Regions from separate parts of the Homo sapiens genome. Here region 2 is linked to region 1. Evidence: fine-mapped expression QTL. A gene starts in region 1. The other region holds a variant in brackets. All regions are shown on one strand. Distances are between the middles of the regions.

Region 1 (16,373 bases):
TCGGTGTCATCCTAGGAGGATTAATTAGATACATCTCTTCACAATTTGGTGTCTGACACTCCATCTTAGGAATGCCTTATCATAAGGTGTTAATTGGGGCCACTCAGCCACTTACGTTTCTATTAAACACTGTGAGGGACTTTTCACAAGTACCAGGTTCTTTTTTACTGTACGATGCAAAAACATACAGGACCCGAAATAGACTAGGGCCAGAATCTGCTATATCCCGGCAGTGATTAGCACTTTGGGGCTTTCTAGAGGGCAGAAATAGGAGAGCACTGTTTTCGAAATTCCATCGCATCTCCCAATATTCGGTGGTTGGATGCAGATGTAAGGGGGCTGTTGGGGGTGTGGGGAAGGCGCTGACCAGGATAGGGGGGCTATGAGTCTCCCTTCCGGAATCTAAATCAGTCATCCACAGTACATATATCTTAAAAAGCACATCTTCAACGCTTTTGTCCTTGGCTCCCCGGTAAAGTTCGGGGCGCCTTTGCCAAAGTGTTTTGAGTAGGCCGTTCGGAAACGCGGAGCAGGAGTTCGAGCCCCCAAGGTCACGGGTGGCGCGGGAAGAACTCGGGCCCCAGAGGGACGGAGGGGAAGGGAGACAGGACAGTCGAGGTACAAGGTCCTGGCGGCCTTAATTGGGCGCAGAAGGGGAGGAGGTCTCGGCTGATTGCTCGCCTCCCAGCAGCTAATCCTCTTAGCAGCTGCATTTCCGCGCTACACAGTTAGCAGAATGATCCTCCCAGCTAGACCTTTACCCCGGGAGGGTCCAGGAGGGGGCTGGAAAGGTTTGCAATCTGGGCCTGAAGCCGTCTGCAGATAAGCCTGGCGGGACGTCTGGCTGGGGGGACAAAGGGGACCCTCCACCCCACTCTTTGGACCTCCCAGGGTTCAGCCAGGGGATGGGCTGTCCTTCGTCTTCCCGTGGAGCGTGGGCCAAATAAACGGAACTAAGCGCAAGGTGAACTGCTCCAAGGTCACTGTTTGCAGAGCGGCAGTGCACGGAACGACTGGAATCCTCCTTTGTAAGTGCCACGCCCGTCCCTAGCCTGCGCCTCAGACCGAGTCCGGGCGGAGTTTGACTGCAGCTACTGAGGCCGGCAGCCGGCGGCGGCGGGTGCGCAGCGTCTGGGTTCAGAAGAAAGCCGCAGGTGGGCGCAGAAGCTGAGCTGTGTGCAGCCCCCCGCTCCGCCGCGCCCCAGGGACCCTGAACTGGTGGGCGCTCAAAGGGCCACGGGGGTTCCCAGGGAGCCTAGGTGGGCCTAAGGATGGGTGGCCCCAAGTAAGCCTAGAAAAAAGCCCAGAGAACTTAGTGGCCAGGCGCTCTGACAGAGCCTGGTCTCCAAGAGCCAGAAGCGGAGGTTTTCGAGGCTTGGTTAAGTCTGATGTGGGCAATCGGCAGCAATCTTCCCTCCCCCGTTCCCCCGCCCCCCTCCCCCGCCCCGCCAACACCCATTGTCCAGACTTCCCAGTGGGGTAAGGAAATAGCCCCATTCCACTTCAAGGAAAAAAGAAGATAAACAAAACATCCCCACCCCCGCATGACTACAGTATCCAGTTAGAGATTCTAGAGCCTTCCGTGGAGGTAGGGGATGGGTGAGGCACTGTTAAAGCTGAAAACGATACAGGAGGAAGCAAAATGAGATCTTTAAAGCAAAGATGAAAACCCCAACAGCACAGAAGACAGAGCTATGTCCGTTCCCTTACTGAACCACATTTATTAAAAATGACTAAGACTGTACATAAAAATCCAAGATCTCTAAAATGCCTATAGGAGCTGTGGTATCAGGTTTTAGTTTCTTCACATTACCAAGTTAGGGAGAGGGGATGGCGCAAGAAGAGGATGAAATAGGAGTTTTCCTTAAACACGGTTCAAGTTAGTACATAGTAGCTGAATACATTCTTAACTATCTAAGAAGTAAACAGAATATTCCCAAATATCATGGGGATGATGAAACTCTCCCCTTGCCCCTGCAGCTGTTAAGTGATTTGCAAATTCTTTACAAAGCCAAAGCACCAGTTTTACATTATCCCAGACACCTATGTAGACTATTTGTACAATATATACCACATTATTCTATAGTGTATCTAAACACACAACTGTACACTTTTAAATTCTCCCTTTTTTTTTTTTTTTTTTTTGGTGACTCCTTAGCTTGCTCTCTCCTGAGTCCCACTGGCCACCCCAGCACACAGCAGAGGCCTAGCAAGTCTCAAGTGAGGCAATCCTGGACTAGGGCAAACATGGCTTGTTCCAAAAGCCGGGGGTTAAGGAATCAAAGTCAGGTGAAACTATCACTTTCACAAAAGCTTTTCTTGACTCCTGGGCCTAGTATCTTTTGCCCCTGGCAGAATGTAACAGCAAAATGTCTCCTTCTGAAACGGAAGGCACAGCCCTCTTTCAGAAGCAAAACACCTTAACACTCGGCTTCTATTTGCTTAAGAATTTACAAATAGAAATGAGAATCAAAGGTTTTAACTCATCTGATAGCACTGGGCACCCAATGTTCACAGCCTGCTTCTTTGAAGGGTTAGTGTCTCCCCAATAAATAAATACAGAACCTTGGATACCCTTCGAATTTTAAAATACCTTAAAGTCTTCCATTAATCTTATTTTTTAAAAATGCTAGGTTTGTTTCAGTTACCTGCAGCAATCAAAAAGCTTTGGCACCTTCTTTTAGAGAATTGCACAAAACAGGATGCATCAAGGTGGAAGGCAAACATCTTTTTGGCAACCTAGGCAAAGAAGACAACAAAAAACACCACCAAGTCCATCTGCAAAAAGTTAGCTAATTTTTGAGGTTAAAATAACTCTTTAGGGAGTTGTGTAAAAAGCATAATACCCTCCCATGCCTTTTGAGGTGTCTTTACTATACTCTTCAGCATTAATGTCCTCACACTTTATGGAGGGTGAATTTTCATTACTGGAGTTGCTAGGAGACAGCCGCCTTCGCTTACAAGCACTGGTGTATACTCCTGAATCATTGGAATCTAGAGATTTGATGGAAGGGGGTGTCTCTATCCAAGAAGAGCCAATTTCCTCTTTCACTTTCTCCTTGGAGAGCTGATCTTCAGAGAACACAGTGGGGCTTGTTCTGGAGGTCCATGGTAGTCCAGCTGCCATCTTCCTCTGGTAAGAACCTCGACCTCCCCACCCTGCCATTGCAGGAAAGGTTGGGTCTGGGTAATACCCCAGGGCATGGGATGTCTGAAGGGGCAAGGATTTAATGCCATATGGGAGCAATGTGCTAGAAGTATATTCAGATTCATAGGAACTGATGTCTAGTTTGTTGGTCCCAGGTTGCTGGACAGGCGTGACAAGCCACCGCTGGGGAGGGTTGGCCACCTCTTCGCTCTGTTGGGGTGAAAGGAGGCCGTTGGTCTGTGGCACGGTTCTCTCGCCATTATAATAGCGGGCTTGAGGTAAAGTGTTGACAAAGGGCTCCGGGAAGAAGGATTGAACGCCGTACCGACCTCCAGGGACAATCTGATGGGATCTAGGAGAATCCGTGGGAGATGGAGTTAACCTGTCATTTTCTGAAGCGGTGTACATGCTACAATATAAAGAGAAACACTTAAAAAAAAAAAAAAACCCTAATGTTGTCCCCAAACAAACCACCTCCCAGAAATGAAAAAGGCTTGTGTTGGTTATCTACACCGAAAGTGCTGGTCTGTTGGGCTGAAAGAACAGAGGCAGGAGATGCACTGGCCCATTTTAGCTGGACTCTTGGCTTATTGGGAAAAATTTCCCACCATGCAAGAAAAAGTTTCCTCCTAGGCATCAAGTATTTAAACTATAGAAAATCTACCTTTACTAGTCCTAGAACACGAAAAACTCAGATCAAACCTCCTTTGTCAATGTGATGGAAAAAACACTGGCTGTGGCGGTAGAAAACTCAGATTTTAAAAAGAGCAGGGCCTTGCTATTTCGTGTTGTGAAATTACATCCTCTTAGTTTCAGTTTTTTCTTATGTTAAAAAAAAAAGTGGGGGTGGGGGAGAGTAATAATATCTGCTCTTGGGAGGATAAAAAAATGGATCAAATGAAAAGAAAGGTATATATAAATGCAGATTCTTAAAATTTCAAATCTTCACTCAAATGCTAAAAAAACCTCTTCATTTTTAAGTCCTTAACATTTCTTCAGAAATTAACACAACCTTTCTGAGAAAAATCTAAAGCAAGATTAGTAAAGGAAAAAATTTTGGAAAAAGAAAAATATGTAAAAATCCCAAAGGTAAAAGCTCTTCCTAAAATACATTATCAGCAAAGTGCCTGTTGATGTATGTCCTGCTCAGAGATGATCAGGCAAGTGTGGATAAAAGCTGCACTTACGAATCATAGTTGTCTCTGAAGCCTTTTGCAAAGGGGTTATGATCAATCTTTAGTTGAGTAATCTAGATAGGGGAGAAAAACAGTCATTGAGTGATTTATCATGCTGGACCTTAGCTTTAGAGATTCTTGAGATGTCTGGGACACTCACATCGGTGTTTTGGTAGGCAGTCACTGCAATGAATTGCGTTTCTGAGAAGGTAAAAGTCTGGGTCTTTGAGGGCTCATTCAAGTCCTCCACGCCATCCTCTGTAACTTCAACAATATGCAGTCGGGGTTGGTATTTGTGTAAGGATTGTAAGACTATCATCTGGAAAGAGTACAGAAAAAAATTGCTAAATCTAAAAAGCCTCTTAGTGGTTCAACAAAATTAGATTTTGACAAATTATGTATTTTGGTATTGGACTTCTAAATGCTCCTCACTAACAGCTTTGTTTATTGCAAGTTTAAAGGTCTCATTATTGCCCCCCCCCTTTTTTTTTGAAATTTAAATCATAGCTGGGTATGTGGTTGTGATAGATATGCTTTCCTCTTGGTTTCCTAAATTCCCAAAATACTTCGCTATTTCTGTTCTTAATAGTCAACTCACTGTTATCGAAATCCAATAAGAAAGTGAAGATGAGAAAGGTCAAAAGAACAAAAATGGTTAGAAATAGGCGAGCAAACAGGTCACAAATGCAAATATTATAAATACAGTGAAAAGAGTAGGGACTCTTATTAGAAAAAAGCCTTATAGTCAAAGCCAGAAGATATCCCCTCCTGCTCTGTCACTCTACCTGGGTGTTGTTGTTATTTGCGCCTTTGTTATTGGTGAGTTTTAATTTCCCGAATGAAATCTCCTGTCTCATCCAGTGGGAACCAGTATTAGGAGACTCTGGGTGAACATACATTTTGTTGCCTAAGAGAAAATGAAACAAAACACAAAACCCAAGCATATAGGGCTGTTTACAAATGGAGAAAGCGGAGGGATGTCTCTTAGCTATGAGCAAGATATAAGAGCTAGACTTACAGTTGGTCTCCCAGTAAAAGTTGCTTAAAGAGGCCAGTGGAGACCAGCAGGACTACATCCATATCCCTCCCAGGCCCCTGTGCTTCCAACCTTCCTTGCACTAGGGACTCCCCTGAATGGCATTTCAGAATTTAGAAACGGAGCTAACAAGAGATGACTCTTGAAGGTCAATTTGGGGCCTTCTAAAGCTGTAAGGGCAACATCCGATGGAAGACAGTTGGATATTTATGGGTGAACTAAACTTTGGCTGGGCTTTCTCAAGTGAACATTAGAATCCCAGGAGCCCTTCCCACCTGGAGAGCTTATGACTACTGATTTGTTAAACGTAGGGATTGGGGGGTGGGGTGATGTCTTAGTTAAAGGTTCTAAATATCTACATATTGGCAGACAAGAAATCTGACTTAGCAAACTCTCCTCTCCGTCAAACAAGCAACTCAAAGACACTCATACTAACACCTCTAGGCCTCAGAATGGAAGGGGAAAAAAAAAGTGCTACATTTAAATGTGAGTTGTGTGAGTCGAGGGTTACGATTTCTTCCCGCCCGTTCCTCCCCGGCCCGAGCCTCTTCTCTGCTCACCCTGCATGTTATTGTCGGCTTTGCCACAGGTCACCCATTTGCCCCCCTGGAAGCGCCAGTGGTTGGGGTCCGCCAGCACCACCTCTACGAACACATTGTAGTGGGCAGTGGGATTGAGTCCGTTTATGTTGAAGCTCAAGAAAGGAAACATGCGCCTGTGCAAGGGAATAGAATCAGAAAAATCGATTTTAATTGGGATGTCCTAGAACAGGCCCAGGCCCCAGCGGGTTCCCCAGACACCTGGGATAGGGTCGGAACACATTTAAAAGTTTGCAGTGAACAGAATGCTGGTAGATCAAGTGGTCTGAAACTATGTAAAATATTTTTGAGTTGGCAACTCTTGGAACCTTTCCGTCTTTTCAAAAAAAAAAAAAAAAAAAAAAAAAAAAAAAAAAAAAAAAGCTTGCCCCAACATCGGTATATTCCAAATTCGCGCGTGCTTCCGAAGGCTCATATTCTCGGCCCTTTCAGACGCTCTTAAAATTTTTCTCCTAGAATGTTAAAAACTACTAATTTTTAAATGCACCATTTTGAAAAGTACCAGAGAACAATATTAGGTTATTCTTGTTAAAAATATATATTAAAACTTTAGGCTAAAAGTCCCCTTTGAGTGCCCCTCTCTCAGCACCCACCCCTCCCTTTCCCCAGAAGTAGCCAGTGTTAGCAGTTGGATGTATATCAGAACTTTCTCGCGCACCGAACCCGAGCCAGGTCTGGCTCCAGGGCAGATCTAACCACCTACTCCGACCGAGCTTCCGAGGCCGGCGCTCTAGCCTTCATGCCCACCTCCCGGAGACGCCCCGTGGAGACCCTGGCGCCTAAAACTGCGGGAGCCCATCTACTGCGCTCAGGTGGCCAGCTCTTGAGCCTTCCCTATCCGTGGCTCCTTGCCGGCATGCAGGCATGCACAAGCATACCGCCGAGCAGGAGGATCTAACGAATCCAGCTTGTGGACATGCCCTAATTTCCATTTCCGCCTCCTCCAGGTCTGTTCAGGTGAGGATGATGGGAGGGAAAAGCGGTGTACAGCCGTAACATTGGCACCCTGCAAGAGCCGCCGGGGCACTGACACAGAGGGACACCGCATTGGAGATGCGGTGTCTACGGAGATTTATTGCGCGCGGTGAAACACTCTAAGCACCGCGCGGAACAACTGGGTTCAGCTCCCTCATCCCGGACCTTCCCCAGGACCACACGTCACCCTTTATCCCCGAACCCAGGGGCCCCTCCACGCTGCGCTCACCTGCCCTGTTTCGTAATGATCATCTCAGTTTGGTGGCGGTGGAATTTGAGCCACAGAGGCCGGTTGCACAGGTAGACGTGGGCACGGAAGCCAGAACCTGGAACCCCCAGGCCCCCCAGTCCTCCGCAAGATCCCGCCGCTGCGGCTCCAGGGTACGGCCCGTAGAGCGGAGCCCCCTGGCTGTACTGATAGGTGCCCGGGCCGCCGCCCCCGCCGCTGCTACCGCCCGCGCCACTGCCCGCACCGGCTCCTGGGCCGAACTGCGCCCTCCCGGGTGGGCACACAGCCGCGGGGAAGCCGCCGGGGGGCAGCATGGAGCCGTAGGGGTAGCGCGCCCCGTTAGGAGCCGGGTACACAGGTCCGTGGGGCGCCCCAGCCGCCGCCTGGTACGGGAAGAGTGAGCAGGGCGCAGCCAGCTCCGACCCCTGAGGACCGGGGGACTGGAGGTAGTACCGCTCGGAGCTCAGGCTGTCCATGGAGTAGCGCGCAGTGGCCGCAGCCGCGGCGGCGGCGGCGGCGGCGGCTGCAGCGGCGGAGGGCAGCTCCTCCTCCCCGCAGGGGGAGCCCTTGCGGCCGTCCGGGGGCCCCGGCTTGGCCACTGCCGCAGCGCTGGCAAATGCGTCCCCGGCGTCGGTGTCACTAAGCATGGCCGCGGGGGCCCCTGCGCTGGCGGCTGCGGGCTCCCCGCTCACCGCCTCGCAGGAGAGACTGCCGGAAAACTTCTTGGACGCTTTGTCTAAGTCCAACTTCTGAGGAGAGGGGGCCGCGCTGGGGAGGTGGCCAGCGCTCCCGCCGCTGCCGCCTCGCGCACTCTCCAGCGGGTAGAAGTGCGCGCCAGGCAGGTTCACTGAGCTCACCAAGAGCTGCTCCCCTAACTGCATGCTTTGCAAAGCGCAGACGGCAGCTGGCTGCTTCCTCTCCTCCGGTGGCCTTATTATAAAGGCAGGATGGGGGAGCCAGCGCCCTCTTCCGAGGGGAAGGTAACTTCCCCTTCCTCCCGCGCCGGGGCTACCCACCTGCCGACTCGCGGGCCGCTACTGCGCGTACTGGCGCGCCCTGAATCCAGCGTCCTTTCCGGAAGGAAAGCGCCGTGAGTTGGAAAGCAGGAGGTGGAAACTAACCCAGAAGCCCTCTCCTTTTCCTTCCTCGTACCTCTTGCTCCTCAGGACCCCCACCCTCCTCCCAGGCTCACACGCTGGAAGAAGGTGACTTAGATCTTTGTCCCCATCCACCCACTAGCCCGCGCCTTTCTGCCCTTTTTCAATTGCCAAAGCATCGGTCAAGTTGACCACTTGGAAACTTATGGGCTGTCACTAGCTGCTTTATATATTTGCGGCCAGGGAGGGGCTTCCCGGCCTCACAGCCCGGAGACCCTCCTATTGGCTGGTGGAGGTGACACTAATTCAATTAGGCATTTACTAATTGGATCAAGTCGCCTGTGACTTTCTTTTCCTTTTTTTTTTTTTTTTTTTTTTTTTTTTTTTGAGACTGCGTCCCGCTGTGATAATCAATCCTGGTGTCTGTAATTTCGCCGGAATTTAGGGGGACAAAGTTTGGGGTCTCCATAGCGGTGTCCACCCTTGGCGCATTAGTCATCTCAGCCCTCCGCTGGAGGAATGAGATGGCTGGAGCAGATTTTAGAGGCCAGAGAGAGAAAGACTCTTCAAGCTGATAGCTTGCAGGGAAGCGCCCGTCCCGGAGGCTGGGGAAACTGGGGCAAGTTGGAGACAGGCCCAAGGAAGTCTCTTTCCTCGTCGGAAGCTGTAACTTCAAAGCACACCTTCCTCTTGTCGAAGGCAAACTCCCTGGCCTTCAACGCACAGAACCACTTTTTGTTTGTTCCCATCCTTTTACCCAGTGGGAAAGGTTTGTAGAGAGGAAACTCGCGCTAAGCTTTTGGGATTCCGGGGACGGCCAGAGCACATTGCCATCCTGGAGGACCTAAGCTCTCAGCTTCTAAATCAGAAGCTTGGACAGGGTACTGGGGACAGGACAAGAGTGAAACTAAGCGAGCTAACACCAACTTCATACTCACGCCAACACAACTGCTTTCGGGGAGACAGTCACTTTTATTCCCCACAATTTAAAATCCTTTCTGCTCAGTTTTCCTGATCCCGGATTCCGTCCCTTCACCACCATCTTCAGTTAGGCCTGACACCAAGAAACAAAGCTTCCCTAACAGCCCCACAGTTAGGATTCCCTGCGCCTCTGCTCTGCGGCAAATACAGAAGGTAGAATAATTAGTGAAATAATCAGTTTGATATTGAATTAAACTCCAGCTGCTTGTTTCTTCGCTGCGTTTCCTCAGATAGATTCAAGAGCGGGGCCGTCATATTTTATCGTTTCATTATTACGGAAGCGGGGGGCACGTTTCGTTGCGGATAAGGAGAAGCCTGAATATTCGCTGTTAATAAGCAATTACAGACGCCGCCAGTAATCGCTCCGGGAGCGCATTTTCCGGCTGAGATGTCGGGACTCTGCTTCCCCAACCGAACGCGATCACACGGGAAACTCTTCGCCCACAACAGATGAGATGGCCAAAGGATTGCTGAGTGCGCACACGCAAGTGTAGAACAGTGCGAAGCTTTCCAACCCAGTTTTCCAACCACAGCAGCACCAACATCGGCATGTCTGGGGTCTCCGAGAACGAGGTCCTTAATGCACTTAGACTCTCCAGGGCATTTATCACGGTTTTTTTTTTCTTTTTTGATGTGTGTGTTCGCGCGCTCGCGCGCTCGCGTGTGTGTGGTGGTGAAACCCAGGAGTGCGCGAAGATTTTCAGGGTCAAGGCACAGCCACAGGGGAGGGGGCAAGTTGAGACTAGTGGGCTGGGGCGGTGGCCTTGTAGGTCCTGGGACAGAGTGGCCAGGAGCAGATCGCCAGAAAGCTGGTACTGAGCGCGTTCTGCCCTGCGCTTCCTGCGTTTTGTGTCATCAGTATAGTTAGTGTTTGGCACGGCTGTTTTGATCACTACATTGTCCATGCCTTCCTCCCCTGCTTTAGTGTTATTTTGACCCAAGGAAGTCTAGAACATTGATTGTTCAAGTAGTATAGCTCTGTGAATACCTCATGACTGTCAACGTGAAGATCCCGTGAGGGGTACGCGAGCTCAAGGAAAGAAAGAGGCCGTGCAGCTTGGGCGGCTTGGACGACGTATCTATCCCTGGGCTAGCGGGTCCTGATTACTATTCGTAGGATCCTCCACATTATCCTTTACCTGAGTTGCAAGATATCTAAGGCAAAAGTAGGGATGAGAAATCTCCCTAATGTGAGACCTAATCTCACGTTATTTGGAGCTAGGGTGGCCAAAGGTACATGACAGTTTTGCGCTTTAACAAAGCAAGAAGCGGGCCTCGGCGTCCCTTCAAAATGCTTTTGACGCAGCCAGGGAAGCGCTTCGCGTGGCAAAGTGCCATCGCAGGCAACAGGCATCGTTCCGACCCACTCTGGCGCGAATAACGCGGGCCAGCTGTCCCCCGAGCCACATCAGAAAGCGTTGATTTTATTCCAGCCCCAGAGCAAGCTTTTGAAAGCGCATGAGTTCAGTATGAGCACCACCTAATTATTAAATATACACACGATGTATATAATTAGAATTTGTATTGATTCTTGGGGACAGGAAATTTTGGTTGATATCTACCCACTTCCCCAGTAAATCTATTATTTTTCCCAAACTTCAACACATTTTACATATGGAGGAGCAAAGACAAATTCAAAGAGAATAAAAATTCAGTTTCTATAAAACTACTCTAGGACCCAGGATTTTTGGAACATGGAAAATATGTACATAATATTATATTACATATTGTATTACATTACATTTGTAAGTATATGTTACAAATTCTCTTTAAAATAATGAAAAGCACTGTTTCAGCTACAGATCTTTTTTTTTCTGGCTGAAGATAAAAAATCTCATTTAATGGTTCCTCTGTGTTAATTAGCTAATCACATTATTATTATTATTATTACATTTAGAATATACTAGTCTAGAATGCCTGGAGAGTTATAGATGAGCAAGTCTGTGATTTCCTGCTTGAAATGGGCTTTCCTTTTGCTGGCTCAATATTATAGCCAGGGGAAGAGACATAAAAAATATTTTCACGTGTCCCAGCCACACTTTAAAATCCAGGCACTCCTTTCCAGAAGTAGGAATAGAAAAGAAAGCCAAAGCAGTGGCTTAAGTGAACATGTCAGGCAGCACCCTCCTTAGACTGGGTGGGCAAATAACAGAGCCTTCCAGCCTGTTTGCTGTTTGATTTCAATTACACCCCAAGCTTCATGAAATCCAAATGAGACATTTATTGAAAGGTGCCTGGTTTTATGTGGCTCAACTGACAGTGTATTGGAATACATTGAACAAAAACATCAACACTGGGGAGGAAACATGGAAACCCCTTGAAACCCCAGACCCAAATACCTGCTGGATTAACTCAAATCTTGTACCTTTCAGCCTGAGATGGAGCAAGCAGGAATCTTTAAAGGCTACCAGGAAGCCAAGGCCAAGTCTGTGTGTGAACACATTAAAGATCTCACGCTCTATTGTTCTGAGGAATAATACCAACTTCATACCACTGTCTTGGTCAAAGTTATTGCCAACTTGACCAGATGACCTCTTTATCTCTTTCTCCCCCTTAAAGGTAACCACTAGCCATGCATTGATCTTTTAAAAGCAAAACTGAGAAGCATTTGGTTGGAACAGGATTATTATATAAGAAATACATTTACACACATATGGGTATGTTACAGAGGTGAGTTATAGATGAGTGCAATGATATAAGGTTTACCTCTCCCCATGTGCCACCCACCCCCCACAACCAAGGGGGCCCATATAAATGTCCCAATAAATACTATTATTTTCACCCCCACTAAAAACGTGTTATCAAAACACTGTCCATGTTATTCAAACACTTTGTAAATTCTGAGCAGACTTGCTGCCGGTTCTCCTTTTAACCCTAGGAAAACATTCCAACATTAACCGGTCACCAGCGCTTCGCCTGGACTCTGGGAAAGCGTCAATGGGTTTTTTGTGGTGAGTTGGTCCTTTTACTATTTATCTATGGCCCTTTCTTTGTTGATGTTACATTTTATTTCACCAACTCAGGTTCACTCTTTGGCCCTTTGTTCTCTGATGGCCAGATCTGCCACCTCTGCTGTGCTTTCCAAAGAGGGAGGGAGCTTTAATCACCGTTAGGTTGTTCATGTTTCATTTTTTTTTAAGCAAATGTCCCGTAAGATAAAACATCTTGGCAAAGACAAGCAGTGTTGATTCTGCTGACAAGAGCAAGATACTCCCACCAAAAGTTTCACTTTTATAAGAATTTTTAGAATTTATATTTCACCATGACACTGAAATACACTGACCACTTGCTTTACAAAAAAACAAAAACAAAACAAAACAAAAAAACCCCAAACCAGAGCTACACATGTGTGACGTGAAGTGTTATATTAAACCCATGGTATTTTTTTCAACAAAAATGACCAATTTAAACTATTATCTTTGCTTTAAGTCTATATATCTACATTGCTAATGCACTTTGTGGTTCACTGTTAAAATATGAGGAGGTGAAGGAATCCTGAAATGGAAGTTAATAAATAAACACACTAATAGTTGCTTATTACAAAAGATAAATTATCTTCTCCTAAAGATTGAATCAAGAGTCTTTGGCAACAGCACAAAATCATGACTTACCTTTTTTATGAAAGTAATTTTTAAACTGCTAATGAATTTCTGTATTTAGCTGCTGTTTTATCATCATCATTATCATCATCTTTTTCTTCTTCCTCATCATGTATATGGGAATATATAATAACAAGAAAAGCCACATTAGGCAAAGAAAGTAAAACACTCTCAAGAAAGTGTATTTTGGGAACGTTTGGCTAATTGTTGCTACACTATATACGAAAGTTATACGGGGCTCCATCTATCTTGCTCATTTTTCTACCCTGAAAAGCCTGGAGCACAGTAGGTGCTTATCAATTAAATGAAAAGATTTACTAAACCTGTGTGCTGGAACAGCTAACAGAGGTCAGGGACAGTGTCAGGTCTTAGGCTTTATAACCACAAGGACTAAAGTTTTTTCCTAAGAGAAAAAGAAAACAAAGATCTTTCTAAATTAAAAGACATGATATTTTCATCTTTTTCAGACTTTAAAATATATCATTTTTAAGACCTTTTCTATCTCAAGGTTCTTACATTGTGGCATGGCCTTTGTCTGTATGTCCATGCTAAGCTTCTTCCATAGCAAAATAGAAAAAAAGAAGTTAGTGCTGGAATTGTAGTACAGCTGCTAAGGGAAGCAAACACCATGTCACCAAGGAGAAATGTTAATCTGAATGTAAATCAATTGTACTTTACTAACAGAGTTGACAGAGTCTATGAAAATTAATGTTTCAACAGAAGGCACACCTATGATACAGGTGCAGCAAGATGTCTACACAACAGGTGGGCAGAACCCAAATCCTGTTGACCAAGGCTTCAATATGACAGGGGTAGCTGGAATTCCCCAATCCAGACCCTATGTGAGAAAAGTAGGGAGAGGAAGTTTGGGTTGGGGGCAGAAATAAGTAAGCCCATAACATAACCAAGTAAGAAACAGTGAGAGGGAAGGAGAAAGGAAGGACAGACAACAGGATAGAAAACCGTCGCAGTCATTCCTTAAAGGTCTCCCTTTCCAGACTTCTAAGAGAAAACAGAACCTTGTATCAGAATTGTATGTATTTGTGGCTGTAACCTTTACTATCTTTGTGAGTCTGGGAAAGCTCTTTAACTTCTGTGTGCCTCAATTTCCCCACTTGTATAACAGCATAATTAATATGAAGCAATTAGAACAGTACCTGGCACCTACATAGGAAGTCTTTCCTACTACTCGCCATTACACTTAGACTGAGCTTACTTTTTACCGTTCTTACTAAGATACTGGAGCTAAATGAGGATGAATAAACCTTAGTCTTTTTCCTCCCGGGGATTCCCAGTCCGATGGGGGAGGCCAGGAGCAAACAGGTCAAAAGCAACGTGAACCAGGGGTAGGAAGCAGGAGGGAGTCAGTCAGAACCAAAGAGAGTCCCCAGTTACTCTAGCAGCTCTTCTTTATTTCCCCGAAAGGGGAAATCAAGTGCCCTCCCGGTGAGCTCGGCTGGAGAGGTGCACTTCAAAGCGAGGCGGCTGGGGCGCCCTAACCAGGCTGTGCCTTCCGCCCCCTCCAGGCGGCCATTAGCATTCTGTTTTTCCCAAGGCCTCCAGTATCTCCCGCCACCCGCTGGGATTTTGCCGTTCCGGCCGATTACTTGTCAAAGAAAGAAAATAGGGTATTTAGCTCAGCTTTTGTTCTCCACCTACTTGGTTAAACGCCTGACCACGAAGGAGTTAAGTGAGTAGTCGGAAGCCTCCCGCAGGGTTCTCGCTCCAGGAGAAGGCACCCTTAACTGGATGTCCAGAAAAAGAGGCCATCTGGATCCACTCGCTGTGGGTCCCTGCGGGCCTCAGTGGCGGCATCTGCAAATTAAGGGGACAGAGCAAGTGCAGAGCAAGATCTACCGCAGAGAGCGGCTGTCGAGGGAAGTCCGGAGGAGGCCCCGAAGGCCAAGCCGGCCTGGGCTGCTTAATCACTCGGTAGGGGCCGGGACGGTCCCTGGAACTCCCTCCCCCCACAGAATATCAAGGAGCCATAGTAAAGGCGTATCCAAGGGGCAACAAAGAGCAGCTAGGATCATTTTTCCACCACTTAGGGCTGACTTTTCAAGAACAGAGTTTATCTGCAAATTCACAAAAGAGGAGAATAAGAAAAGCAGCAGCTGACTTTGCTCTGCTTTACTTGTATAATCTTTTAAAAGAAAAAGCACCCTAAACTGTTATAATCCCATTTTACAGAAGAGTAAAGTGATGCTTAGAGAGGCGAAGACCCTGGCTCAAAGCACCCAGCTGAAAATGGTAGCCTGGGGATGTGAATTCGAGCGGTCTGGGCTGCGGGGCTCCTAGTGGGGGGATTAAGTACGTGTGAATGGTGGCAGGGCTGGGTCATTGTTTTCTTTGGGGGGGACAGATGTAGGCTATGGAACGGGGACCCTGTGAGTCTTCGGAGCAAGCCAGTGAACGGCATTCAGTACCCATCTACAGCCGGTGGACCTTCAGAATGAGTCTCTGGAGAAAACCGGGCTCCATGACTCGGTTGCAAATCCCAACTTTGCGGTAGAATCGGTCATCCTTGCTTGGCATAATCATGACATGGGTTGTCCACTCTCTAAGTGCTGGGGCTGGGCCAAGCCCTTGGCATACATCATCCCATTTAGGCTCTCACTCCCACCTCTTGAAGGTAGGTGCTTTCAGCATCTTCGCTTTACAGTTAAGAAAATCCAGGCTCAGAGAGATAAAATAACTTGCCTGAGGTTACACAACTTGTGAACCTTAAGTCCAGGAGGACCTAGAAGATGGAGAAGGCGGTACCTTCTGCCTGGAACTCTGAAACTTTTAACAGAAAACTGATCCCTCGGTCCCGAAGAGAGAGGCGCGGCAAAGCAACAGCCAGTTCTCTCCCTCATCCCCTTCCAGATAAATTTCCTTTTCTCCTACTCCTCGCTGGGGTTTGCGGTGCCCCTGCCTCCTGCATGAAAGCGCGCTCTAAAGCTAGGGTTTTTGGACTTTAGGAGCGCTTCTCGCCTCCCCCTAGACGTTTGAAGCCTTCCAATTGAGCAAGGGCTGGGAAGCGAGAAGGCTCCTCTGGTCTCTCCCTCCTCTGAGCGCGGGACCTCGGCGGACACCCTAATCCCGAAACACTCCTCTCTGGGACTGCGCACTTGCCAGCACGACAGCCAACTCCGCCTCAGAGGAGTCTTTTAGGGCTCTGAGCGAGTGGCGAATGCTCCCCCGGTGATGCACTATCGCTCCCACCCACGCCCTGGTACGCGCAGCCCGGGAAAAAGAAAAAAAAAAGTCCACGTAGGGGCTCAAACCCAGGCGTCAGGCGCTGCAGTCAGGGAAGGCTCCCTTAGGGGCTGGGTTCCTGGCGCTTACGACGCAGAGAAGGATAAGGGCGATGGTTTCGCAATCCCACCCCCTCCTTTGTCCTCCTCCCCACCTCCCAGCCTTTGGCGGCTTAGATCTCCAAATGCAGTCTGGATGGCACTCAGGTATTCGAGCGCCCCAGTTTATCTTATCACCGCCCCCTACAAATACACATCCATTCCAGATTGGCTTCTGGGAAAAGATACGGGGGTA
Region 2 (16,373 bases), 360 kb after region 1:
TAAATGTAAGGCAGAAATTTGGATTTTGATTAGAGTTGCAGAAAATTTAAATTTAAACAATAATTTTGGAAAAAATGTTTTTGTGATTTTAAATTGTCCAATTGAAGAATATATGGATGTCTATACATTCAGATCTTTTTTTTAGATTTAATTTTATTATTATTATACTTTAAATTTTAGGGTACATGTGCACAATGTGCAGGTTAGTTACATATGTATACATGTGCCCTGCTGGTGTGCTGCACCCATTAACTCGTCATTTAGCATTAGGTATATCTCCTAATGCTATCCCTCCCCACTCCCCCCACCCCACAACAGTCCCCAGAGTACATTCAGATCTTGTTTTATGTCCATCAATAAGATTTTTTGTTTTCTTTATCTTGTCATGCTTAACATATTCTTAAATGCTTTTTTTGTTTTTGTTGTTGCTATGAGTGAAATGTTTTCCATTCCCATGTTGGGATACTCAAGGCTAGGATCTATGAGAGGTATAGATTATTTAAAATATTTATCGTGTATACAGCCAACTTACCAAATTTTCTTACTAATTCTATTATTTTTTAAATAAAGATGATATGATCTTAATGTGTCCCCCAGAGTTCTAGTGTTAGAAACTTTCTCCCCAGTGCAACCATGTTGAAACCTGGGCCTTTTGGGAGGTATTTAGGTCATCAGGAATCCACCATCACGAATGGATTAACACCGCTATAAAAAGGGCTTGTGGTTCACTCTCTTCTGCTCTTCTGCCATGTGAGGACACAGCACCCATTCCCTCTTGCCCTAACACTTTCTGCCATGTGCAGATGCAGCAAGAAGGCACTCACCAGATGCTTGCATCTTGATCTTGTACTTCCCAGCCTCTCCAGACTGTGAGAAATATTTTTTTCTTTATAAATTACCCAGTCTGGGGTATTCTGTTGTAGTAGCATAAAATGACTAAGATAAAAGGTTTGCTATGTTTCTTTGTAGTCTTCTAGGGGCTCAGGTCTGTTTGATCAGTGGCAGCTCTCCCATTGCGGGTAAATAAAGAGATCTCCGTTTTTTTTAACAACACCTAATGGCTGTCCAGTTGAGCACCAGGTAGCAGGCTACCCTCTGCTATATTGGGGAACTCTTTTGCTCCCCAGTCTCTTTGTTCTCTTTAATACTTTGTCCTCCTGTTAAACTCCTTGGCCTCTTGGAAACCAGGGATACCTGGTACTCTCATGAAAGGCCAATGAGGACCTTCTCCTTGGAGTTCACCAACCTTCACAAGGTAAATTATTTCCTGGGGTTCTACAGAGCTGGTCTCCAGATGCTCACTCAGATAAAGAAGATTGTCCCATATCAGTTAAGTGGGGACTAACAGGTTGGAATTGGTGAGGAAGTCAAATGGCTGCATTTGGGTCACTGTATTTCCAGAATGCCCCTCTTTTAGATTTCTAGATTATTATGCCTAATAGACTCAGTGTTACTTTCTAAGGAAGCTGTTGAATGATATATGTATGGCTTCATCCTGGCTCAAGCACTTAGTGACTTGGCTTCCCACATTCTTCCTTTCTCATTCTCTTTCCAACCATACACCTTAACCAAGTAGAGTCTAGATTATCTCAAAATGAACTTTGTACTGTGATGGAATTCCAATTCACAGATAGCAAATCCTAGAGGCTTAAACTTGCATTCAATTGAAAAAGTTATAGAATAACTGAATAAATTATCTTTATGACACAGTTTATCAGGCATGATTGATAACATCACTAGATGTTGGCTGAAGACCAAAATACATAATGTGATACATTATCTGGTCTCTAATAACAGCCCCTAGTGAACCATACCTTCCAGTCTTCCTGCCCACTGAATCTGGACTGGTGGGCCTGTGACTTCCTTCAACTGATAGGATGCAGGAGAAGAGACAGTCAGACAGTTACAAGGCCTAAGCCTGTAAGAAAGACGGTAGCTTTGAGTCATGGTGTAAGACATCCAGCTACTTTGCTGGAAAGACCATGTAGAGACACCACATGTAGAGGCCAGTTGAAAGAGAGAAAGGAATCAGTAACTTCTGCCTTTACCAGCTACAGTCCCAGACTTAGGCATCCTTGCCAGGGTATCTATCAGATTCGTGAGAGGAGAATCCTGGGTGTTTAAGCGTATCCACAATCTGATCACAGCTGCAAAGAGACCCTAAGTGAGACCACCAGAAGAACCATCTAACAGAGACTATTTAAAAGTGGTGGGAGAAATAGTATGCAAAATGGCCTCTGAGTTCAGTCCGTGTTGGAGCTTAGGCTGACTTCGTTCATTCAAATAGACATTCTTCAGAATGCCAAACCACAAGCCATATAATTTTATTATGCAGATTTATTGCATATTAAAATTGTTGTTGTTTTAAGCCACTAAATATTGAAGTAGTTTGTTCTGCAGCAATATATAACCAAAACATATGTTAAGGCAGAAATTTAGAGTGAAGTTGGGACTCTCAAATTCACACAGTAACTTATTTCCAGACCTAGATTTTCCATTTTGTTCCATGTTTTCATCCTTTTGTCTCCTTGTTGCACTAAGACAAAAATCTTAGTGACACAATTTAGGATTTTTAGGACACTTTTGATTCTCAGGGATTTAAGAATGATCCACTAGAACCTACAACAAAGAATGCAAATAAAAGCAGTTCTGTAACTTGGATTCTCCAATATGCTGAAAGTGCGCAATCTTGTTTCATTTCCCAAAGTATTAGGCTTTCTGAATCAGGCCTTCAATCTAGTGAAGTGTCTGTAAGAGTAAAATGGCACACACCACACAGGCTCATAAAATCATAATAATAATAAAAACCCCTCAGACTTTTTTTTTTTTTTTCAGCTGTGAAGCAGCACCTGCCATTAGCTGTGGTGGTTCCTATTTTCATATTGTCTGACAGTAGCAGTTGGATCACACTTGAGCCAGTGTGACTGAGAGGCGGGCTCCCTGCTTCCACAAAGCTGAATTTAATAAGATGAGAACAGCATGCCAAGATGGGGAGCTCCCTCCCTGACACTTATCCTGACACCAGCCCCTCAGCGGGGCCGTATTGCTGTGGTAATCTGGGTGAGCCGGACAGAGCGTCCTGCTTACAAGTTCAATATAATGGAACAGCAGGGGGCGAAGGGCTGGCAGAAAAGCTTAGCAAAGTTAAAGCCTATTACTCTATGCTTGAGGAAAAATGAGTCACCAAATATTACACCCAGAGCAAGACTTGAACCTGCCAAATGCAGCAGCAACACACGCTAAGTCTTGTCCATAATGGTGCATTCATTATCCTATGGTCCAGGGTAATGTGGATTTAAATGTTTTTAACCCTAATGGAAATGTATATGCAAATTTTCCCTTAAGCCCATCCCTCCCTCAGTGTTCTTTTGCCCTATTTGAATCTAATAGGCAAGGTGACTGTACACTGCATATGTCAAAGAAAATGATGCCTTCTTTATCTGCCGTCAGTAGCAAGAAGAAGGCAAGAAACTGGACAGAAATCTTTCAGCTGCATGTTATGGCTATTGTTGTTGCTGTTCTGTTTTATGCCTCTTGTGGTGTTGAATTTAAAATTAATGGAAGAAATAGCATGCAAATGATCTCTGTGTTCAGTCCTGATTGAGGCTTAGGCTGGCTTAGTTAATTTTAATATCAGCTCTTCAATATAAGTGAATTCTAACACAAACTCTTCAATATAGATAGGTTTTGATACAAGTTCTTCAATGCTGGCCATTCAAATCAAACTCTTAGAAGTGGAACAGATTTGCCGTATATTTTCCATCAACCAGTGCCCCAGAACTTACATATTTCCATCAACCAGTCTAGGACTTTGTCTAACTGAAAGACTATTATTTAGAATCCTGATCCTTAGGACTCTAGGACTCAGTCTTTTTTTTGAAAGAATGACAATAGAACTAAGACTTGTGATTCCTCCTGCTTCCCTAGATTAGCTACTACCAGATTTTCATTACAGCAGAGGCCACTGAGATAATCAATTATGGTGTTAATGACAACAGCCACCAATTACTGAGTTCTTATCATGGGCCAGGTGCTTGGTTGGGTAATTTATGCCCATTATCTCCAATTGTTATATAGTGCATCATAAATGTTCTCATACTGTTCTTCAGATGTGCAAAGAAATTTCACCTTTTTTATTTACAGCTGGCCAAATCTTATTCTTCATGGTTTTCCAACGGAGATACAACATTAAATGTCAGACCCTTTGGATGTATAGTGTCTTTCAGCTATATACTCAGTCTTTTAGGTTTCCTCTCTTTCCCCTTGCTCCTCTTGAACATGGTGTCTGAAATGCATGTGCTTAGCACCAGTGGTGAATGAACACTCTAGACTCATGTTAGTTCTTGGGTTCCTGGAGGCCCTACCTTGGGATGGCTGGCCTGACCAACTGCATAGACTGAAGAGCAATCAGGTTCTAACCAGCTATTTGGAGCTTCCTGCTGGCCTAATACTAGAGACTGTGATCCTGGCCTATTAACTCTGTTTATGAAGCCTTCAAATGTTGCAGACTCTGACCATCCCAAGGTGTATGACAGTCCACCTTCTGTCTCTTACATTCTGTGTCCCCACATCAGGACATGTAGGAATACCTGTATGCCCTTCATGCCAGGCGCAGGCCAGGGGGAGCAAGCCCACTTCCTCAGTCTCATCTCTCATCTCTCTTGTTCTTCTGTCGTTCAGTGGTGTACTTTTCTTCCCACTCCATAAGGACATGGTGCAGAGATTAATGGGAGATCCTTCCTAAGATCTTAGCTGTGTCTAGGGAAGTAGACCACTAATCTTTATGTCTCGGGGGTATCCTAGAAACATCTAAATATTTCCATTGTCCTCTCACTTTATTTATTTATTTACTTATTTATTTATTTATTCATGCATTCATTCATTGAGATGGAGTCTTGCTCTGTCACCCAGGCTGGAGTGCAGTGATGCGATCTCTGCTCATTGCAACCTTGGCCTCCTGGGTTCAAGCGATTCTCTTGCCTCAGCCTCCTGAGTAGTTGGGATTATGGGCATGCATCACCATAACCAGCTAATTTTTATATTTTTAGTAGAGATGGAGTTTCACCATTTTGGCCAGGCTTGTCTCAAACTCCTGACCTCAGGTGATCCACCCCCCTTGGCCTCCCAAAGTGCTGGGATTACAGGCGTGAGCCACCATGCCCGGCCCTGTCCTCTCACTTTAAATGCAGGACAAGGAGTGAGGAAAATGGGAATCCTGACATCTGACCTCCTTCATTTATCATTCACACTTTTCTTCTTTTAACACTGCCCTGGGCACAGAAGCAGGGCTTGCCCCTTCCTCTTCCTGCCTAGCCAGACCCCCATACCTCATATGAGTTCTTGTTGTACTCTAATTGCCCTAATTTAGGTTCCCCAGAAACAGACAAGGAATCAAATGGAAGTAGTATATTTGGGAGGGGCAAAAAACACCAAAGTGGGAAAATGAGAGAGGCAGGCAGTAAATAAATGGTGCATTATAGACCAGTTACCGCTGTGGGCAAGTGGACCTTAATCCCATGGGTAACAGAGTAGAGCACATGTTCAGAGTTATTCCACCCAAGGGTTAAGGAAGCTGCAGCATTTATACATCAATTCCTCTATTTGCTGTTGCTTCAGACAAAGCCACAGGACCTCAGCCATGGATTATCTGATTCAAAATGACTTTAACAGTTAAATTCTGACAGTTGAGACTTGCAATTTTCCCTAAAAATTATTTCATTAATTTGTGAACCTTTTTCTTCTACCTCTTGATCTGAAAGCCAAACAGCCAAACAAGCAGGAACCATGACAGTGTTCATTCCAGTTCAGCTAAAGACATGCATTAAAACAAAATAATTTGGTTGTGTATCACCAACCAAGTATCACAAGCAGTTCATCGCTTTGGCAGAAAGTAATAGCTTTTAAATAAAAATCCAGCTAACGTTTTTGATCAAACTATAGTAGTTACAAAAGGAATTTATTTCCTCTTATAAATCAGAGTAATACCTCAGCCCTGGAGGGCTAAACTCTCTTTTATTTCTCAACTTTTTGAATATGCTGGTCTCTCTTGTCTCTGAAACATCCTCCCATCAAACTTCCACTATCCTTGTCTTCACAGACAACCTTTAGGTATCACTTTACATGTAATTTCCTCTGAAAATCTTTCTTCCATTCTGCCACTCATCTTCCAATTCCCAAGAAAGCACTTTACTCATAGCACAAGGTATTTAACCTGCCATAGAGTGCATCTATCTGTGAAGTAATGACCAGTTTTCCTCTCTGAAGCCCACTAGCTCATGAGTTCATAAATATAAGGAGTGCTTTCTAAATAAAAGTAGCTTGACACCTAGCATGGCTTACATGCTCAAAGCGGTTACACAGTGAGTGAGTTACACTTGCTTTCAGT[T/C]CCCATGAAGCCTCACCTAGATTAGGAGATAGCACCCGTACTCAGAAAGGCCTGGGATGGAATCCTAATTTACCTCCTCTGTGACTTTTGGCAAATTGCCTAACCTCTGTAATCTTCTGTTTCCTCATTTGTGTTAAAACATTAATATTTACCTGTCAGTGATGTTGTGCCACTAAATGAGATGTAAGTCAATTGCTTGGTATTTTATATAGCAAATGGTAAGCATTCAATAGCTGGGAAGTGGATTCTACTGCCACTTCTCAACAGAGGGTACTTGGAATCATATTAATACTTATAATGTATTTATTCCTACTATCACAGCAGTCTGAGAGGCTGAATATATAAAGTACTGGTTCTCAAACTTTTGCATGTATTAGAATGCACAGAGTACATATATATATACGGGCCCTAGCTCTAAAATTTCTGATTAAGTAGGTATAGGGCGGGGTCCAAGAATTTGCATTTCTGACAGTCTCCTAGATGACACTAATACTACACTGATGGGCCTGGCACCAACCTTTGAGAACTGATTCTTGCTTTCTTCACATCTCCCTCAGCCCAGACAGCTGCACATGGGAGTCACTCAAAAAGCTTTCAAAATTACTAATGTGTGAGTCCCATACTATAGATTTCTAGTTTAATAATAGGTCTAGGGTTCAGCCTGAGCATTAGTGTTTTGAAAGTTTCCCAAGTGATTCTAATGAGAAGCCAAGGTTGAGAACTGGGGCCCCAGGTGCATGTCAATGAAGCCTTGCATCTCAAAGTGTGGTTTTCAGACTAGCGGCATCCACATCACCAGGAAGCTTGTTAGAAATGCGCAAACTCAGACCCCACCTGGACCTGACTAATCAGAATCTGCATTTTAAATAAGATCTTCCAAAGGATTCTTGTTCACGTAAAGTTTGAGAAGCTCTGAAACACGGAGTCCTCTCACCCAGCTCACATCAGAGGAAGTATTACCAGATCTTACCTTTGCTTCAGGGATTTTCTTTCCTAAAAGACCAGGATTTAAGACAAAATGAGGAACTCATTACCTATGACCTTTCCCCCAAAACAGGGGTTTTTACTCCTACATTGCAGGCATGAGTCTGAGAACCCTTCACTCATTGTCCCCATCCTTTTCTCCTCTCTATCTTCTCAGACTCAGTTTTCATCTCCAGACACAGCCTTCATCACACCTATTTATTAATGCCAAGGATTCATACTCTGATTCAAGTAAAGACAGGAGGCAGGATCAATGTCTTAGTAAAATTCAGAAAAATGAAACTCCTCTTTTAAAATATGTTAGCACCTGGTTTCTCCCTAAATTACCCTAACACACAAATGTGTTGAGTATTAAAATAAAATCTTTATCCACTACAGGCTGGAAAGTGGAAAGTAACATTGAAGGGATGCCTAATGATTTGGAAAAAGAAAAAGATCCAGCTGCATTAGTGAAGAAATTATGAGGTGTCTATGACCAGAGAAACATGAAATGTGCTAATTGAATGCCCTCAGATGCCATTATCAGTGAGGCCCCTCCAGAGCCAGCAGCACAGGCTCATCTGAGCAGAAACCTGAGCTAACAGCAAAGAGAACTGTCTTGATGGCCTAAGTAGGGTTCTAGGGTGCATGAGTCAGCAGGCGAGCGTCCTTGTGCATGGGAGTTCATTAGGAATCTTCCATAATCAAGAGTGAAAATCACCTCTGGTTGAGTGTGCCATTATGTATTTGAAACCCAGAGAGAGGACAAGTTTTATTTTTAGAGAGAACAATAACAGCCATATTAGGAATACGTGCATGCACACATTGCAGTCATGTACACACGCACACACCCACACACACTCCAAATCACAACTCTTGTTACTCCAAATGTATTCCATGAACCAGTAGCATCAGCATCATCTGACCCCACCCTGTACCTACAGTTTACGCATCTGCATTTTAACAAGATGCTCAGGTCATTTGACGCACTTTAAAGTTCGAAAAGAATTACTATAGACCAGTGGTTCACAGCTTTGGCTGTGCACTAGAATCACTCAGGAATTTCAATATGCAGCAAATTTTGACAGCCAATGGTCTAAAATCAAAGATAAAATTATGCCCTCTCTTTTCCCTTCAAATTGAGCCCTTTCACCACTTTTAAAACAGGTCTTTGATGTGCAAGAGAAATGCTTTAACACTGCTATTGAAAGATAACTCTTAGACAAGATCAGGTGCATTCAGGGTGGTATGGCCATAGACAGCTAATGGCTCCTCTAAAGACTAACTTTATTCTCTTCTAGTAATTATGTCTTTAGCTATAAGCTTACTGAGAATACAAACCGTGACTTACTTTGTATAATATCAGATTTCAGGCAAACCAAAGGGCTTGGGCCAGCATCAATGCTTAACCAATGTTTGTAATTAATGATAAATTACTGATAATAAGTGAAAGCTCAGAATTCTGCCTTCTCTGTGCTATTCATTTTTTTGTACATTTCAATTATGGAAGACATTGTTAGGATTATATCTCTTCATAAATATTAGAAGCTCTTTGAAATGCAGGAACACATTACTTCTTCTCCCCCCCATCCAAATATATAATATATTAATAAATACAGAGCATATATTCAGTGACTCTAAATCTCATTTAATATCCTTAAGTTTTGATGAAACTAGAAGGCAGGATTTTTACATAAGAACATTTGAATTTTTGTAATTATGAAGCATGCATTACTGGGAGTTTGCTGCATTTTACATAAGAACTTTTTAATTAATGAGAATTCCTCAGGAATGAAAAAACAGCTGTCAATAATAATTTTCTTAAAACTAATGTCTTCTAAGATATGTCATAGATTTAGAATATATTCAACAGAGTACACTGCACTTTACTTTCTATAAATCTGTGCAGTGAGTTTCTGTGTTTGGAATGATTACACTAGACAAGGGGTTGGCAAATGTTTTCTGTAAAGGACCAGGTAGTAATTTTTTTTTCTTTGTTTCACCAGCCATGCAGCCTCTGTCACACCTATCTACTCTGATATTGAAAACAGCCGTAGACAATAAGTAAGCAAATTCTTGTACTTGTGTCCTAAAAAACATTATGAGAACAGGTGGATTTGGCCCACAGGATATAGTTTTTCAACCCCTACAGCTGGATTATGTTAAGAGGTAAATGTGGAGTAAATTATACTTACAAAGGCAAAATAAATTAGTTTTGGTAGAAACTAGAGTATAAACAACTGCCAAACAATGCAAACACACATACTTAGATACTATTTTCACAGAGAAAAGGAAACTATAAATCCTTACCAAATCTTTCAGAGCTAATGTGGGGGTGGAGAGTGAGAAAATGCTCTGTTAACTTGTAACCTTAAGAAATATATAATTAACCAGGACATGATATTACTCAAATAGTCATATTATTCACAATTTTCTGTAAAGATCGTAGCAACAAAAGACTGTAGGATGACTTCTTCTCCACTATGGAGAGAATCAAGTGATGACTTCAGTAAGTGAACTGGAAACATAACCCACCTTAGTTTTCCAGCGGAAGTAGGGCAACGAGAAAGTCAGCCAGGAGCTGATGGAAACACCTATAGTCAAAATAATGTCTGTTATACTGTAAAAGCTCTTAGTCTTTTGATTTGTGCATTGATCAAAGACCATTTCAGGGTTGAAACTGTTGAATCCTAAGTGGATAGGTAAAGAGCTTCAGGTTCCCTGGTAATTTGGAGATTCCTTCCCTCAGAGGACATAGTAATTAGCCAGGAGGATACTCAGCCAAACCTAGTATGCTATTGTGGGTCTCTTAACAATGTCTAACTCAATGGCCTTCACCACTCATGACACCAAATGCACACACAAGAAAATGGATTTCTCTAGCAAATAAGATGTTAAAATATTAGCTTGGTCTTAACAGATGGTCCTCCAAGTTTAATCTGGTTTGATAATTTCAGAAGACATAAATTTTTGTTTGATCAGAATTGATTATCAGAGCACACTCCTGGTTAAATATTCTGGATTTGAAAAAGAAATTTAGTTTCACTCAGGGGTTCAGCAAGCTGGTGTCTGGTTTGTTGTTGTGATGGTGGTAGTGGTTTTCTTGTGGGGTTCGGTTTAAGACCCACCTATTAAGCTCTTTACCATCTCCTTCTTTCTTCCTCATTCTAGAAGTATTTCTCCTCCAGAGCAGAAGGTGTTTAAACAACACGTGCTAATGAGCTAGAAAGAAGCATCTATTAATTTGGTAACGGACAAGCAGTAGTTACATATTTCGGCCTGAGAATTGGATGTTGCTTTAGAGGCGATGAAGAATCTCTAAGGAAGTTTCTTAGATTTAAACCTCCCTTACAATTTCTGGCTTCATGTTAAATATGTAACAGTTTCCCTCTCATACCATTTTGTGGAAATTGGTAATGTAGATGGCCATTTACAAAATGGGAACTGGGGTGAATACACACATGACTTTGCCTGGGACATCTCACATTTCTATGCCAATTATTTTATTAAATTCTCACAATATCCCTTGGAGAGTTTACCTTTGGTTTTCACTTTATAGATGAGGAAACTTAGTATAAGAGAACTGGAGTTACATGGATTGTAAATAGCAAAACCTAGATCTTAACCTATGAGAATGATTCTAAAAGAATGTTCAACCACAATGCTCCATTTCTCAATTAAAAGCTACAGTATACTGCAAAGTGCCAGGGAATTGTTCATCTCTTCTGTTTGGGAGAAATTGTATTTGGAGAGTAGGTAAGAGACAAAGTTAGAAAGAAAGGTGGAAGCTGCATAAATATAATTTTATAAGCAATATTAAAATTTCTACATCTTTATTCTCCTTAGTTGGCTTAGTCTGGGATATGACATGAAGTTAAAACGTGCATTTCTAGAGGGGGTTGTGCACATATGTATACATCCAGGTCTGTAGGTGAAGAAGAAACTGTGAAGAAACTAGCAAGAGACAAGGTGGTATTTGCCATTAAGTTTACAATGAGGACCGTAATGTGTTCCAGTTAATACCTGTTGTAGATCAAATACTATGTCTTCATTATTTTAGTGCCTTTTCCCCCTTTCACTCTCAAACATTTCCCAGTTTGGGCAATAAATTGTATTGCAGTCGTATCTATAATAAAATATTCAAATAATTTCATTTTTGTTTAAGTGCTTTTGAGGCTTTATTGAAATCTTAATGTATCCTTAAATATTTCTTGGAATATTTTATTTCTAGGAAAACAGACTTGATCATTCCTTCAGATATTTGTTGAAAGCACTGAAACAGCCACTGAAGGGTGGGAATGAATCCACAAATGAAGGTGACAGCCTATGAGCAAAAGCGATAATGACGAGATGATTATAACAGAGGTAGGTAGAGCCATTTCCGGAAAGAAGAGGTTTGATCAAGGATAGGAGCTTTGTCCTGGACATAAAATATGTGAACAAGAGTTTATGTGGTGGTCGTTGTAGCCGAAGAATATTGTAGAAAAACAAGTGAGCAAAAACATACAAGCCCTCAGCAAACTGAAGGCTATCATGGGCCAGAGTAAGGGGCCAGCTCTTTCTGCCTCCAACGCCGAGCGGCAAGAGGATAGAGAGAGGGGAAAAAAGCAGCAGGAACTTCTTTCAGTTTCTCTGGTCATACATAAGGACTCTCCTTTCTTGGAGTTTTGGATACCTGACCAGCCACCACTGCAATTGTCACCACCACTGCCATAGAATTTCCTGGGAGATAGAACAGTAGAAAACATAAATTCTCTTTGATCCCATGAGGCCCCCTTTCTCCTTCTTTAGACTAAAATTAAGTGGGTTTTCTTGGAGTTCATTTTGTCTGTACCTGATGTATAGTTCCTGTTTTCCAGCTGTCTCGGTCCTGCAGCAGGAGATGCCAGAGGGGAAAAGTGGTTCAGTAGTACTTCAGGTTCTGGTTTCTTTCGTTAATCTACCTGCTGCTACTTACTTTACAGGCTCCTCAGAGAAATGCTACATACATTCCATCCAGGGTTTTAACTTCCTTCATAGAGAGAGACAGAGTGGAATATGTTTACTCCACCTTGACTAGACATCCCAGAAAGGACGGGATATCCCAGAAAGGATGTCTTCATTACTGTAAGAAGATTGGCTTCATGACTAAAAGTATCCAGAAACTTTTTATCTGAAACTTGAGAAAGTCATTGGACCCATCTTAGATTTCACCCGAGAGCTGGGGGAGAAAAGAATAAAGTTGTTTTATGAAGTGTCTTTCAACTTAATGCTTCCATATGGTTAAATTTTTAAAAGGAATATTTACAAGTATTTCACCTTAGTAATCAATTCTACAGAGCCAGCAGGAAAAAAAAAAAGTCAGTCTGAAAATACTTGAAATGCTTAATTATTTTTCAGAGTAGACAGTAAGGAAGAAAAGGCCCCAGATCCTAACTTTGGCTCTCCGCTTCACTGAATTACCAAAATAAGGGAAGTCTTCAGCCATGGCTTCAGATCAGGACAAGAAGGGAACTTCATCATGCCCGTGTTATTGTTGGGGGATTGATCCAAAAAGAAAAGACCTAAGTTTCAGCTGGTCCCAAACCATGGAGAATTTTACCCACACAAAGCCCCCATTTGCCAATGCAAATCTGGTAATTGGACACTTAATTACCCTATTTGCACACATAAATGAGGGGTGTTCCTGCAAGAAATCAGAGTCCACTCTTACAACTTTGGCCGCAAGCAATGAAACCACATGCTTTTGTCAACAGTTAAGTTGATTAGAATTGTGTTTATTTCTGCTCGTGTTAGGCCACATGTATTTTCATTGGAGCCTGATGTCTATTGAGTTAAAAGCTTAGTTTAAAAAACCTATGTTATGCAGAAAACCTAGATAGTAATTGCCAACTATGTGCCAAGAATCCTTTCATCATGTAGAGAATACAAGGTCTGAATAAAAAGAAATATTCTTTGCAACCTCATATGCTTGGGCAGACTCAGCAGTCTTATCGTCATAATAAAGACAGAAGGGCCTTTTAAAAGAATACTTTCAGCAAAATTTCCAGCATGGATTACTCTTTTGGGTAAATGGCTCAAACATTGAATTTTCCCATTTCCCTAGGGCAGGTAAAGGAGTGAATTTTCTCTGAATATCTTCTAGCTAGACAGTGTCCTAACAATGTCCTTAGGGGGAAAAACGTTCTTTCATTTGGAAGCATGTATTGTGAGTAGGCCCATCTGGGTTTCCTCCCTGTGAATAGAAACACCAAGATTTGGCCGTTTTCTGATCTTTGATTATATGCAGGCCTGAGTTCTAGTCCTGGCTCTAACTCAAACTGTGTACTATTGGGGACAGATTCAGTTCCTTACAAGTGCTGAAAAAAAAATGGTGAAGGGAAAGCTTGCCAGGGAGAATCAAGCAGTAAGTCTGGGAAATGGAGGCAGGCACGGGAGGCCTCTAAGGTAGCAATGGTGGAGGAAGATGAGCAGTAAGGAATGATCATTAGATTTGGTGATTTGAAGGTCAATAGTAACTTTTTTCTGTCTTGGTCACTAGGTGCTTAATAAATATATTTTGAGTGAATGACTTAATTATCAGCACAATTTGTTGAGCACCCCTTGCCCAGGAAGCACCATGCAAGGAGTCCAGAGTACTCAGAAAAAGAAAATGGGCTCCTGCCTACAAGAGAGTTGTGAGAGTACTCGCCAAAGAGTAAAAACTAGCCAAGGTGAAACAACTGAGCAAGACAGTCAAAGATGTAATGTGAAATGAGGGAGCAAGATGAGTTCTTACATAGTGATAGGATGCCTAGTGTGTATTGCATTCCATAGAGGGGCTCCCCTCCCTCCTGAAGTACAGGGGAACAAACTATGGAAAGACGGAAGCTGGCTTGTCTTTACCACTGCTGTGATCACCTAAGGTTCAGTAGATGCCAACCAGTGCAGAAAAGCTGTGCACCCGGGGAGGCCCCACCCCAACACGGTGAAAACCAGAGGACTCTGGAACCAGGCCTGGATTCTGGCGGCCCAGAGGTAGAGTACTTGATTTCATCACTTCTTTGTCTCTCTGCATTATGGGGCATCAGGACTCTCTTACTTGGGCTCCATCTTCTTTCATTATTTCTCATGTGGACATGTGGGATACACACACACACAGACACACACACACACACACTCTATATATAATAAATATAATAAATGCTATATTATTATTGTTTTATTTCCAAGGCAAATATTCAAAAGAAATTCTACTAATGTGTTATGTGTGAAAACGGTTATGTGTGAAAACTGTTAGTTTGAGAACAGAAACAGAAGTACGGGCCCTGTCTGTCACATCCATCACTATAATCAACTTCCTCACCATCCCATCCCTCAATAAGACATGTTTTAAAATCTTCATCATGATTTTTTTCCTTCTTTCCTCCTTCAATTCTCTTTCTTCCTTTCTTTCTCTCTCTTTCTTTCTTTTCTTTTGAGAAGCTGCAAGTGCTATTGTGATGGGCTTGACCGGAAATTACTGAAAAGTGACTCTTTTAGTTGAACATAGAAGTAACAGTGCTTAAAGATGTTTTATCAGTGGCTAAACACTCTGACCAAACTTTAGAGGTCAGGGGGTTAAGAAAAATATTTTTTCACTTTTACAAACCTGTGAACTTCAGCTGTGTCCTGTTGGTTTAGAAGCGGAAGAGAGGAGAAGAAATTACCTTTAGTAAGTGTTGACTAGATTTCAGGCTCATTAACCAAATTATCTCAGTTAACTCTCTCTGCCACCTTCAGGTAGGTATTAATATTTACTTTATAGATGAAGAAGAGTGTTGTTTAGAGAAGATTGGCAACTTGCATAGGATTACCTAGGGAAGGAAAAAAATCAGAAGGCGTGTTCTATGACCTTAAAACACATCCAAAATATTGGTGTTTTTTCAAGCTGTGGGTCAATAAGTCAATTTAATGTATCATGACTAGAGATTTTTAATTAAAAAACAGACTAAAATATATTTGAAAATATCCAAGTACCATTTCCTAAAGCTTTTGCTTTATCTAGTGTATGTGTGTGTGTGTGTGCGTGTGTGTGTGTGTGTGTGTGTGTGTGTGTGTGTACTACGTTATGATGAAAAATGTATTTCTCCCTGAGTTGTAGTCAAGTTTGAAAGCCACTGCAATTGCCCATACTGGTGCTATACAGTAAGAAAAAAAATGTCTAGTTAATTGTCATTAGGGTAATTACATAATTTATAATCCAAACAAGAACACTTCGGAAAATGAAGGAAATTTTATCATTAACTACAGGAGGTTAGCAGACTTAACAGGGATTGTTCTGGGAAAAGTTAAATGAGCATTCACCCCAATAAACATTGCTATGGTCTGAATGTTTGTGTTCCTCCAAAATTCATATGTTGAAGATTAATCCCCAATGTGTTAGTATTAAGAAGTAGGGTCTTTGGGGAGGTGATTAAGTCATGAGAGTGGAGCCCTCACAAATAATATTAGTGCCCTTGTAAAAGAGGGCTGGGGGAGTTTGTTTGCTCCTTCCACCATGTGAAGATATAGCAAGAAGGATGGAGCCCTCGCCAGCCAAACCCCACCACAGCCTTGATCTTGGACTTTCCAGCCCCCAGAACTGTGAGAAATAAATTCCTGTTGTTTATAAATTACCCAGTCTAAGGTATTTTAGTTATAGAAGCCCAAAAGGACGGAGACAATCACCCACATCCCATCCCCATATCTTACATTTTAGCAACAAAATGACTGGTAAAAATAGAGAATACATTTAGGAGAGAATGTGTGACATATTTTGTACTCAGGGAGGTAAAACAACTATTTCAGGTTACAGATACATGTTTTTTCCCCAGCACACTATTAAAGTTCTAAATCATTGTATAATGGTGCAAAGAATATATTCTTTCTCCTATTCAGAGACTGCAATGTTTGTCAGCACAATCTGGCATTATTAATGCTTTGTTAGTAATTAAACTATGAAAATATCGAATAAATACCCATAATGTAAAATGACAACTTTCTTGTAACAGGGGCATATAGGGTATCACAGTTTTGTGCTTGTAAC

What was found. PIP is the estimated chance that this variant, and not a neighbour inherited with it, causes the effect.
Region 2: its variant is fine-mapped to the expression of EOMES in lymphoblastoid cells (GEUVADIS, PIP 0.95).

The regions. Positions count from the first base shown.
Region 1 is chr3:27,714,252-27,730,624 of GRCh38, forward strand. EOMES (eomesodermin) reads right to left here and starts at 8,072. Exons shown (of 6, transcript NM_001278182.2): 1 at 7,163-8,072; 2 at 5,920-6,074; 3 at 5,109-5,230; 4 at 4,484-4,642; 5 at 4,336-4,397; 6 at 1,702-3,557. The coding sequence starts at 8,043. The coding sequence ends at 2,819. It overlaps LINC02084 (long intergenic non-protein coding RNA 2084), which reads left to right. Exons shown (of 2, transcript XR_007095851.1): 2 at 1-149. RefSeq lists enhancers at 1-734, 10,253-11,127, 13,973-14,904, 14,905-15,834, 15,835-16,373 and a silencer at 7,498-7,707.
Region 2 is chr3:28,074,704-28,091,076 of GRCh38, forward strand. It overlaps LOC105377008 (a long non-coding RNA gene), which reads right to left. Exons shown (of 3, transcript XR_940674.3): 3 at 14,514-16,373. Among named protein-coding and RNA genes, the nearest start is that of LINC01967, 54 kb to the left of the region's middle. RefSeq lists a silencer at 7,151-7,200. The variant T/C (reference allele first, on the strand shown) is at 6,386.